Homo sapiens: one gene and its partners. The protein of the gene in region 2 interacts with the protein of the main gene of each other region in a pairwise test. Each region holds a gene or a part of one and is shown on either strand. Other genes may lie near its edges.

Evidence for each region.
Region 1: the proteins of NBL1 (region 2) and ZMIZ2 interact in binary tests that used the Homo sapiens proteins (3 or more experiments, as listed by UniProt).
Region 3: the proteins of NBL1 (region 2) and SDC2 interact in binary tests that used the Homo sapiens proteins (3 or more experiments, as listed by UniProt).

Annotation. Positions count from the first base shown.
Region 1 is NC_000007.14:44,758,810-44,762,629, forward strand, and holds part of ZMIZ2 (zinc finger MIZ domain-containing protein 2), read left to right. Parts: intron 1-471; coding exon 472-651; intron 652-754; exon of another isoform or gene 755-766; coding exon of another isoform or gene 767-937; intron 938-1,341; coding exon 1,342-1,419; intron 1,420-1,615; coding exon 1,616-1,784; intron 1,785-2,612; coding exon of another isoform or gene 2,613-2,639; coding exon 2,640-2,784; intron 2,785-2,885; coding exon 2,886-3,096; intron 3,097-3,820. UniProt on the Homo sapiens protein: Increases ligand-dependent transcriptional activity of AR and other nuclear hormone receptors.
Region 2 is NC_000001.11:19,654,311-19,657,910, forward strand, and holds part of NBL1 (neuroblastoma suppressor of tumorigenicity 1 isoform 2 precursor), read left to right. Parts: intron 1-701; coding exon of another isoform or gene 702-720; coding exon 721-890; intron 891-1,013; coding exon 1,014-1,125; intron 1,126-2,555; coding exon 2,556-2,819; 3' UTR 2,820-3,600. Other genes in the region: MICOS10-NBL1 (neuroblastoma suppressor of tumorigenicity 1 isoform a precursor), read left to right, coding at 702-890, 1,014-1,125, 2,556-2,819. UniProt on the Homo sapiens protein: Possible candidate as a tumor suppressor gene of neuroblastoma. May play an important role in preventing cells from entering the final stage (G1/S) of the transformation process.
Region 3 is NC_000008.11:96,608,765-96,612,462, forward strand, and holds the end of SDC2 (syndecan-2 precursor), read left to right. Parts: intron 1-620; coding exon 621-784; 3' UTR 785-3,026; downstream 3,027-3,698. UniProt on the Homo sapiens protein: Cell surface proteoglycan which regulates dendritic arbor morphogenesis.

The DNA of each region.
Region 1 (3,820 bases), on a different chromosome or scaffold from region 2:
AGGCTGAGGCAGGAGAATTGCTTGAACCCAGCAGGCAGAGGTTGCAGTGAGCTGAGATCATGCCACTGCACTCCAGCCTGGGTGACAGAATAAGACTCCATCTCAAAAAAAAAAAAAAAAAAATTAGCCGGGCGTGGTGGTGTGCACCTGTAATTCCAGCTACTTGGGAGGCTGAGGCAGGAGAATTGCTTGAACCCAGGAGGTGGAGGCTGCAGTGAGCCAAGATTGCACCACTGCACTTCAGCCTGGGCAACAGAGTGAGACTGTCTCAAATTAAAAAAAAAAAAAAAAAAAAAAACAGGCTTCTGCATGTGAGAACTGCCTGTGCCTGACAGTGTCACAGCAGGATCTTCAAGGGAACCAGGAAATCTCCATTCCCCGAACCCTGCCACACATGAGACTCTACTTCCTTCTGGAACCAGCTCCCCTGATGCCTTTTTTCTCCCCTCGGGCATTTTGCCTCTTTTTCAGGTGTATCCAGGGCAGCAGTATCTGCAAGGAGGCCAGTATGCACCCAGCACCGCCCAGTTTGCGCCCAGCCCTGGGCAGCCCCCTGCCCCCTCCCCTTCCTACCCTGGGCACAGGCTGCCCCTGCAGCAGGGCATGACCCAGTCCCTGTCCGTGCCTGGCCCCACGGGACTGCATTATAAGGTAGGGCAGGCTCCTCCAGGCCCTGTGCCGGGCTCCGTGCTGAGTGCTGTGGGACAGGGGACCTTGGGGCAGTCCTGTCCTCGAGAGCGACAGGGTGGCTAAAGGGGCCAGCAGGATGTGTAGGTCCATGTGTGCTCATGGACCACAGCTCTACAGGAGATGGGGGGTGGGGGGTGGGGGCATTCTGACCAGTGCAGGAGCAGCTCCTGGGGTTTGGGATCCAGTTCCGAAAGGACCCTCTACAAGATTCATATATCTCAGGGGTATCCTGTGCAGGGAGCAGCAGGTGGGTACCCAAAACATTTGAATGTTCTTTATGGAAAAGTGTCATTCCTTCTACTTGCTGCAGAGAAATCCATTGAGAGGACAGGCCCTCGCTGCTGGCCATGTACCCTTTCTGGGTGCATGGGCAGAGCCTACCTCCCTGGGAGCCTGGGTGCGCCGGGTGGTGCAGCTTGGGGGAGGAGAGGAGGAGGGCTTAGCGTGCTTTTGTCTTTTCAGCCCCTCCAACCTGTTTGATCATTTTCCTCTGTGGCTATGATTGCTTTAAGTAGTGTTACTTGTAGATTATTTGGAAAATACAAGAGAGTGTAAAGAAGACCGTGTATGGTGGGCTTCTAGGGTCAGGTCCAGGGGGCCCGGCAGGGGTCAGGTTGGAGCCCCAGGTGCATGCAGTTTTCTCTCCCGCAGCCCACAGAGCAGTTCAACGGGCAGGGCGCCAGCTTCAACGGGGGCAGCGTCAGCTACAGCCAACCTGGCCTGAGTGGGGTAGGGGGCCTGGCCGGGAGGATGGGCCGGGAGGCTCACAGGGTGGGCATATGGAGAGAGGGCGACCGGGCAGGCACCCCTGGGGCCGCCTCCTGTCCACCTCTGTTATCATGGTTCCCAGTGGGTGCGCCGTGAACAGACTCCACTCCCATCCACCCTGGCAATCTGCCTTGACTGTTTGTGCTCAACCCTACAGCCTACCCGTTCCATCCCGGGCTATCCCAGTTCCCCACTGCCAGGGAACCCCACGCCACCCATGACCCCAAGCAGCAGCGTCCCTTACATGTCACCAAACCAAGAGGTCAAGTCTCCCTTCTTGCCTGATCTCAAGCCCAACCTCAACTCCTTGCACTCATCGCCCTCTGGTAAGTCTGTCCACTCTTGGGACAGCGGGGTGACAAGGCCAGGGTGGGCATGGGGGAATCACAGGACTCCAGAGAGTCCTGTAGGAGCTTGGGGGACAGGGGATGGCTGCCATATCCCTAAGAAAAGGGCTGGGTGTGGTGGCTCACACTTGTAATCCCAGCACCTTCGGAGGCTGAGCACAAGAGTTCAAGGTTACCGTGAGTGTGATCTTGCCACTGCACTTCAACCTGGGTCCCAAAGCAAGACCCTGTCTTAAAAAAAAAAAAAAAAAAGGCCAAGGATTCCATCTTCTTAAAGACAAGTCGCTTAGTGCCAAGCCTTCACCTTTTTGTTCTGTTTGTGGCTTTCTTTGCAAAGGAGGCTGTGGCTCTTCTCTCCCCTGTGCACAAAATGTTGTATATAATTTCAGGGGATTTATGAACCCCGGAAGCCCATTCCAGGGAGACCACAGCAGCAGAAGTTGGGATCGTAGAACTCTAAACAGAGCTATAGGGCAATTGCAGGAGGCTCTCACACACCTTGGCCTCCCAGTCTCTCTGAAAGCACTGGAAACACCTTTTGTCTGGGCTGGGGACATGTTCCCCTATTATGGTTTAGGGGACACTGGGCTGGACTGCTGAGGCAGGAGGCAAGACAGAACATCACGACCGAATGCCCAGGCCTCAGGAGAGATGCTGCCCATGGCCCCAGCCCCAGGGCACCACTCAGGCCTGCCAAGCAGTGCCTGACAGGAGGGGCTCCCTTCACCAAGGTCCCTGCGGGGAAGGTGGCTGGGGAGCCGCTGCCCTCCTTGAGTGACACAAGACGCTCTGGCTGGGGCAACCCAGCTCACAGCCAGTGGCCTCTGCTCCCAGGAAGCGGGCCTTGTGACGAGTTGCGGCTGACCTTCCCTGTGCGCGATGGGGTGGTCCTGGAGCCCTTCCGCCTGCAGCACAACCTGGCTGTAAGCAACCATGTCTTCCAGCTGCGAGACTCAGTCTACAAGACCCTGATAATGAGGTGAGCTCCGCCTGGCCCCCACCTGACCCCCACGAGGCTCTGTTCCTCCTCCCACACTCTCAGGGCCCGTTTTCTGGGTGTCCACCCATCTTCCTGAGCAGGCCTGACCTGGAGCTGCAATTCAAGTGCTACCACCACGAGGACCGGCAGATGAACACCAACTGGCCAGCCTCGGTGCAGGTCAGCGTCAATGCCACGCCGCTCACCATCGAGCGTGGCGACAACAAGACCTCGCACAAGCCACTCTACCTGAAGCATGTGTGCCAGCCAGGCCGCAACACCATCCAGATCACCGTCACCGCCTGCTGCTGCGTGCGTGTCCTGCGCCGAGGGGGCGGTGCTGTGGCGTGGGGCGGGGTGTGGTGGGGCCTGGCCCAGCGGTGCCGTGGGGTGGGGCGGGGTGTGGGCGGGGCCTGGCCCAGCGGCGCAGTGGGAGCGGAGCCAGGACATGGGCGGGCCGGCCTGCAGCACCATCAGATCATGCCGCCGTCTGCTGTTTTGCTGTCCACCGCCTGCTGTAGCATGTGTGCCCCCTTGCAGGGTGGAGAGCAGGACGTGGGGGCTTTATTATTTCAGAAAAATGCGTTGCTTCTCTTTGTTACTGCCTTGTATTTCTATTTTAATCTGTCATCCTTGCCCTTTAAGAAAGCGATCCAGTAATATACCCTAGCTGTTTTCCAGTTAGAGTAAATTGACTAGATTTGATGCTCACATTAATTATGTAAGAGAAACCAGGATATGCAGAAAGCTCATGGAGCTCGGAGTCCCCGGCTGATCAAGCATTACCGGTTCTAGCAAGCATCAGGGTCACCCTTGGGCTAGAGAAGAAAGACATGGCTTATGAGTGCACTAGTCAGCCTGGGCATGAGGGCCTTGGGGACGGGTTGGCCACACACCACATTGTCTGGGATGTGGCAGATGTCAACACAGACCCAGCATCTGTGACTGTGGATGTGCGAGCAGGGGGAACGTTCAAGGGGACTTGAGGTGATTCTCTTCATGGAGAAGTGGTGACTAGGCAATGGTTAGACCGGCA
Region 2 (3,600 bases):
AGGATCACCTGAGCCCAGGGAAGTCGAGGCTTCAGTGAGCCGTGATCATGCCACTGCACTCCAGCGTGGGTGACCGAGTGAGATCTTTTCTCAAAAAACAAAACCAAAAAGAAATCACAGCAACGTGAAGGTTAAGGCTAACTTTTCAAACATCAGAATCCTGACAATGGTTGCAGTAGCTTTCAAGGAGACATGGTGTGTGGCCAGCCCCTCCAGGGCTGTGTGGACAGCTTTTTGTGTATTTTCCTGGGTGACTCACAGCATCAAAGGGAGAAAGGAGGTAGTAATTGTTCAGCACTTGACATGTGCTTGAACACTTCGTAATCGCAATCCTGTGCCAGGCAGTGGCACCATCTCCCCTTTTTAGATGAAGAAACCGAGGCACCGAGATAAAAAGTAACTTGCTCAAGGCAATTTAGGAAGTTGTAAAACCAACCAACACATATGGAATGTGTATTATCTGCTAGGCTCATTTAATATCTCATCTGACCTTCCAGATACCCATCTGATGTAGGTACCACTCCCAGCTCCAATTGTGAGATTCAGAGGGGAGAAATAACTTGTCCAAAGTTGCACTTGGTTAGTAAGTGGGAGAGCTGGGGTTGCGCCAAGGAGTCGGATGCCAGAGTCCATGCTGTAACACCACTACCCGGCCCCCTGCACCTTGCTGTGCCTCACCTGGCACCTGTGCTCCGTTCTAGGGCTCTGGAGGCCACGGGCATGATGCTTCGGGTCCTGGTGGGGGCTGTCCTCCCTGCCATGCTACTGGCTGCCCCACCACCCATCAACAAGCTGGCACTGTTCCCAGATAAGAGTGCCTGGTGCGAAGCCAAGAACATCACCCAGATCGTGGGCCACAGCGGCTGTGAGGCCAAGTCCATCCAGAACAGGTGGGACCCAAGGGGTGGGTGGGGGGATGCGGACAGGGGTCCAAGGAGGGAGGAAGAGGACCAGGGCTGCCCATCCCTGCCTCCCCAACAGTGACACAGGCATGGTGACCTCTCCTCCCACAGGGCGTGCCTAGGACAGTGCTTCAGCTACAGCGTCCCCAACACCTTCCCACAGTCCACAGAGTCCCTGGTTCACTGTGACTCCTGCATGCCAGCCCAGTCCATGTGGGAGATTGTGAGTACTGCCTGCCTGCCCCACCCAGTCTCGGCCCGGAGCCTGCCCCAGCCTTGGCCTTTCTCCCCAGGCTCCTGTATTCCAGCAGATGGCCACAGGGCCTTAGAAAGGCCCCACTGTGTGCAGGGTGAAGGGCTTGTGCTGGGGATACAAATGTGGGCCTCCCCACAGGATGGCTCAGAAGTCTGACACCAACTTGTACAGGACAGGGATGTTCCCGAAGTTCCATTCTGATGTCTCTCATGGGCTGAAGTCCTTTCAGGGGCTTCCTGTTGTTATAGGATGAGACCAAAATCTTTGCCCTGTCCCGAGAACCTGGCATGGCCTGGCTCAGTGGCCTTTCCAGCCTCCTCCTGCTTCCTGCCTTCCTTAGTAGCTTGACGCTTAACACAGCCACCTTCTTTCAGTGCCTCGCACCTGCTCCGTTCGCTTCTACCCCAGGGCCCTTGCACCTGTTCTTTTCCCTGCTTGGAACACCACCTCTGTCCCCTTTCTCTAGTTCACTTCTATTCATTCTTCTGCCCTTGGCCCAAGCAGCGTTTCCTCAGGGCCCCTTTCCAGGCCCCCTGACTGGGGCACACCCTGGTACCGTTGGCTCTCAGAGCACAGTATGCCTCCGCTTCAAGCACCTTTCACACCTGCAGTCTTCCACCTGCATCCGGGTGATTTTGACAGATCTGTTTCCCCCACTAGACTCTGATTTCCTTGAAGGAAATGTGTCTTTGTGTCCCCAGAGCTGGCACAGGGTAGGCGCTCTGTGGAAGGGAGGAAGGAAGAGAGGAAGGGAGGGAGAAGGAAAAAAGGTACTTAGATGGGTGATGATAGGGGCAGAGTAGGAGGTAGATGGGGTTCCTGCAGGGTGAGCCTCAGCTGGGCTGGGCTTTGGGGTGGGGCTCTTTTGAGGAAGTGAAGTCTGAGCTCAGACCCAAAGGCGCAGTTTAGGGCATGTGGTAGTCGGCGGGGATAGGGGGGTGGGTGGGGGGAACCTTCCAGGCAAAGGGAACAGCATGTGCGGAGTCCCTGAGGCAGAGCCCAAGCACAGGATTGGTAAGAGTGGTGCAGGGTCAGGGGTAGGGGGGCCAGCCAGCTGGTGGCACCTGAAGGTCCTGGGTGGCCTTAGTGAGGGGTCAGGGTTTGTCTCCAAGTGCAGGGGGATCGCGGCGGTGGGGGCGATTTTAGCAGGGGCAGGCCACACTGGTGGCTGCTGGTGGGGAATGGGTGGGAAGGTGGCAGGACTGGATGTGAGGAGACAGCTCTGGTGGCTTGTGCAGGGGTTCAATTTCCCCCTCCCCATGGGACCCCAGAGCTAACTGGGCATCACAGGTGGGCTCTGGGATTCTTGATCCCATGAGGAAGTATTACCCTAGGGGCTGCCTTGCCTGCCCCAGACCTTTGGGAACATGCCTCTGCTTCTCTCTTGCCCTCTGCAGGTGACGCTGGAGTGCCCGGGCCACGAGGAGGTGCCCAGGGTGGACAAGCTGGTGGAGAAGATCCTGCACTGTAGCTGCCAGGCCTGCGGCAAGGAGCCTAGTCACGAGGGGCTGAGCGTCTATGTGCAGGGCGAGGACGGGCCGGGATCCCAGCCCGGCACCCACCCTCACCCCCATCCCCACCCCCATCCTGGCGGGCAGACCCCTGAGCCCGAGGACCCCCCTGGGGCCCCCCACACAGAGGAAGAGGGGGCTGAGGACTGAGGCCCCCCCAACTCTTCCTCCCCTCTCATCCCCCTGTGGAATGTTGGGTCTCACTCTCTGGGGAAGTCAGGGGAGAAGCTGAAGCCCCCCTTTGGCACTGGATGGACTTGGCTTCAGACTCGGACTTGAATGCTGCCCGGTTGCCATGGAGATCTGAAGGGGCGGGGTTAGAGCCAAGCTGCACAATTTAATATATTCAAGAGTGGGGGGAGGAAGCAGAGGTCTTCAGGGCTCTTTTTTTGGGGGGGGTGGTCTCTTCCTGTCTGGCTTCTAGAGATGTGCCTGTGGGAGGGGGAGGAAGTTGGCTGAGCCATTGAGTGCTGGGGGAGGCCATCCAAGATGGCATGAATCGGGCTAAGGTCCCTGGGGGTGCAGATGGTACTGCTGAGGTCCCGGGCTTAGTGTGAGCATCTTGCCAGCCTCAGGCTTGAGGGAGGGCTGGGCTAGAAAGACCACTGGCAGAAACAGGAGGCTCCGGCCCACAGGTTTCCCCAAGGCCTCTCACCCCACTTCCCATCTCCAGGGAAGCGTCGCCCCAGTGGCACTGAAGTGGCCCTCCCTCAGCGGAGGGGTTTGGGAGTCAGGCCTGGGCAGGACCCTGCTGACTCGTGGCGCGGGAGCTGGGAGCCAGGCTCTCCGGGCCTTTCTCTGGCTTCCTTGGCTTGCCTGGTGGGGGAAGGGGAGGAGGGGAAGAAGGAAAGGGAAGAGTCTTCCAAGGCCAGAAGGAGGGGGACAACCCCCCAAGACCATCCCTGAAGACGAGCATCCCCCTCCTCTCCCT
Region 3 (3,698 bases), on a different chromosome or scaffold from region 2:
GTGTGGAGATCCATCAGTCTTGCTCACAGGCATTCTACATTTCAAAATAAAGAGAACGAAAAGTTCTTTAGGGGAAGGCAGTTCATATAAGTACTGCCCAAAGTGTTAAGAACGTTGTTTCTATTTTAACTTAATTGGATGGAAGTGCAAATATTTTAAAGGGGAAAACTTTCAAGATTTAGGCACACTTGGTAGTCTCAAATCCAAGAATAGAAATAAATTTGCATGCTTTTTTTCATGTATACTCTTTAAAATTTTAAGTCAATTATACTATGTTCTCTGTTGAAAAAAAGCAGTTAGAAAATTAGAATATGAAATGTGAGTTCTGAAAAGACAAAAGTAGTTTTCAAGTATGGAATTAGTTAAGATCAAGGCCAGATTTTTCTTATCGAGGTTTTTGGGTGGTATTATTAACACTAACCAAAGAAATTACTGTACCTTCCTGAGGAGTTTCAGATTTGCATAGTTACCAGGTTGCTTCATTGAATCCAGCTTTTTTTTTATTGGGGTTTTCAAATTAAGCCTTTTATAAAAGTGTAAGTAGATTAGGCTTGACAATAAAGCTAATGTCTGCAACCCTTGAATCTCTTCTAAAGTAATCTTCCTTTTGGTTGTTTCAGCTGTCATTGCTGGTGGAGTTATTGGCTTTCTCTTTGCAATTTTTCTTATCCTGCTGTTGGTGTATCGCATGAGAAAGAAGGATGAAGGAAGCTATGACCTTGGAGAACGCAAACCATCCAGTGCTGCTTATCAGAAGGCACCTACTAAGGAGTTTTATGCGTAAAACTCCAACTTAGTGTCTCTATTTATGAGATCACTGAACTTTTCAAAATAAAGCTTTTGCATAGAATAATGAAGATCTTTGTTTTTTGTTTTCATTAAAGAGCCATTCTGGCACTTTAATGATAAAATCCCATTGTATTTAAAACATTTCATGTATTTCTTTAGAACAACATAAAATTAAAATTTAACATCTGCAGTGTTCTGTGAATAGCAGTGGCAAAATATTATGTTATGAAAACCCTCGATGTTCATGGAATTGGTTTAAACTTTTATGCGCAAATACAAAATGATTGTCTTTTTCCTATGACTCAAAGATGAAAGCTGTTTCATTTGTGTCAGCATGTCTCAGATTGACCTTACCAAGTTGGTCTTACTTTGTTAATTTATCTGTTGTCCCCTTCCTCTCCTCTGCCCTCCCTTCTTGTGCCCTTAAAACCAAACCCTATGCCTTTTGTAGCTGTCATGGTGCAATTTGTCTTTGGAAAATTCAGATAATGGTAATTTAGTGTATATGTGATTTTCAAATATGTAAACTTTAACTTCCACTTTGTATAAATTTTTAAGTGTCAGACTATCCATTTTACACTTGCTTTATTTTTCATTACCTGTAGCTTTGGGCAGATTTGCAACAGCAAATTAATGTGTAAAATTGGATTATTACTACAAAACCGTTTAGTCATATCTATCTAATCAGATCTTCTTTTGGGAGGATTTGATGTAAGTTACTGACAAGCCTCAGCAAACCCAAAGATGTTAACAGTATTTTAAGAAGTTGCTGCAGATTCCTTTGGCCACTGTATTTGTTAATTTCTTGCAATTTGAAGGTACGAGTAGAGGTTTAAAGAAAAATCAGTTTTTGTTCTTAAAAATGCATTTAAGTTGTAAACGTCTTTTTAAGCCTTTGAAGTGCCTCTGATTCTATGTAACTTGTTGCAGACTGGTGTTAATGAGTATATGTAACAGTTTAAAAAAAAAGTTGGTATTTTATAAGCACAGACAATTCTAATGGTAACTTTTGTAGTCTTATGAATAGACATAAATTGTAATTTGGGAACATAAAAACTACTGAATAAATCATGTGGCCTAATATTGAAAATGTCACTGTTATAAATTTTGTACATTTTTGATCAAATGTACATCTCCCCTTTGCTAACGGCCGTCTGCTCTCAAGGATGACGTGGGTTTGATTTCTAAGTGTTTCACAGTGTCTGTAAATCAAGACCAAAGAGCCTGTCGATGAGACTGTTTATTACCAGATTCACTTCTGAATTGGCCAGAGGAAATCTGAATGTATTATCCTGTGTGTGTCTAGGTAGAGATATTGGAAGGCTGCCAGGGGATTTCGAAGTTTGCAACCTTTATAGGATAACTGATGGCAATATTAAGACAGACGCCTGCTTTTGCAAATAACTTACAAGACTGTAAATTCCAAAGATCTGAATGGGGCTTTCCTGATGTTGGTATCTAAGGCTTAGGCCTATAGATTGATTTACCTTTGGAATTGTGCTCCAAATGTCTACTGAAGCTTAACCGAAGAACTAATAAATGGACTACAGTAGCTCACGTTACAGGGAAGGAGGGTAGGCAGGGAGGCTCTGTGTGTTAAAATGAGGGTCTCACTGCTTTAGGATTGAAGTGGCTGGAAAGAGTGATGCCTGGGGAAGGAGATGGAGTTATGAGGGTACTGTGGCTGGTACTTTCTGTACTAAACATTTCCTTTTTCTATTTTACCACTAATTTTGTTTTAAACTGTGAGCCGTCCAAGTCAGAAGAAGACAGCAAAAAAAGCAACTTTTCCAACATACAATTTACTTTTAATAAAGTATGAATATTTCATTTTGAGAACATTCCCTGGAATTGCCACATAATTCATTAAAAACATTTTTTTAAGCAACACTTGGAACAGTGTTTACTTTAAATCCTTAATGGCCTTAATTAATTCTCAGATTCCTGCCCCATCACTTACAGAACCAATTCACTTTAGAGTGACTAAAAGGAAACGATAGCCTAGCTTTCTAAAGCCACGCTGTGTCCCTCAATTACAGAGGGTAGGAATGGGTATACCTCTAACTGTGCAAAGCAGAGTGAAATTCAATTCATAGAATAACAACTGCTGGGAATATCCGTGCCAGGAAAAGAAAAATTTCTGGCAAATATTTTGTCACTGCTGTAAAGCAAAATATTTGTGAAAGTGCCAAAATAAAGTCTGTCATGCCAAAAGTAAATCATTGTATAGACTGACATCCAGTTTTCTTCAACTGTACACTTTCTGCTTAGTTTTTTTTTTTTAAGATGCAGTAAATAATACTATAAAAAGTGTTAGTAATGATTACTGAGTTCAGGAAAATTTTGGTAAAATGTAAATATTAAAGCCAATGTGAAAATTTCCTGTTTCCTTAACCACATGTAAACGATTTCTCTTGAGTGAATATGGCTTTGTGTTTGAGAGACTTGAGATAGTCACACTGTCCCATTTTCAGCCCGTAGGGGGAATAGGAAGCACTTGGGTTTTATTTTTGTTTTTCAGTTTTAGTTGCAGGTGCGTAGTACCTGAATTTCAGGATTAGGACCTGTTTAATAAAAGTGAACAAGATTATAAAAATTGCCATTTCTTAAGGGTTGATAGTTTCTCATCAAACGTTTACTGAATTTTTGTCCATGCACTTTTTTGCAAGTTAGACAAAATGTACTTGTTATGGATGTAGTCTGTTAGGTCTAGGAGAGTAAGCTAATTAAATAGAATATGATTACTTTCTTCAAGTGTCCCTAAAGAAACTACTGTGTCCTACTTCATAGTTCTAAGGAGCTTATTTCTTCAATATCTTAGACATTTTGAAACATCAAGGAAAGATGTTAGGTGAGCAAAAATATAAAACCTAGAAATATTGTGGGGTTAATTTTATAAGTGTGATCTT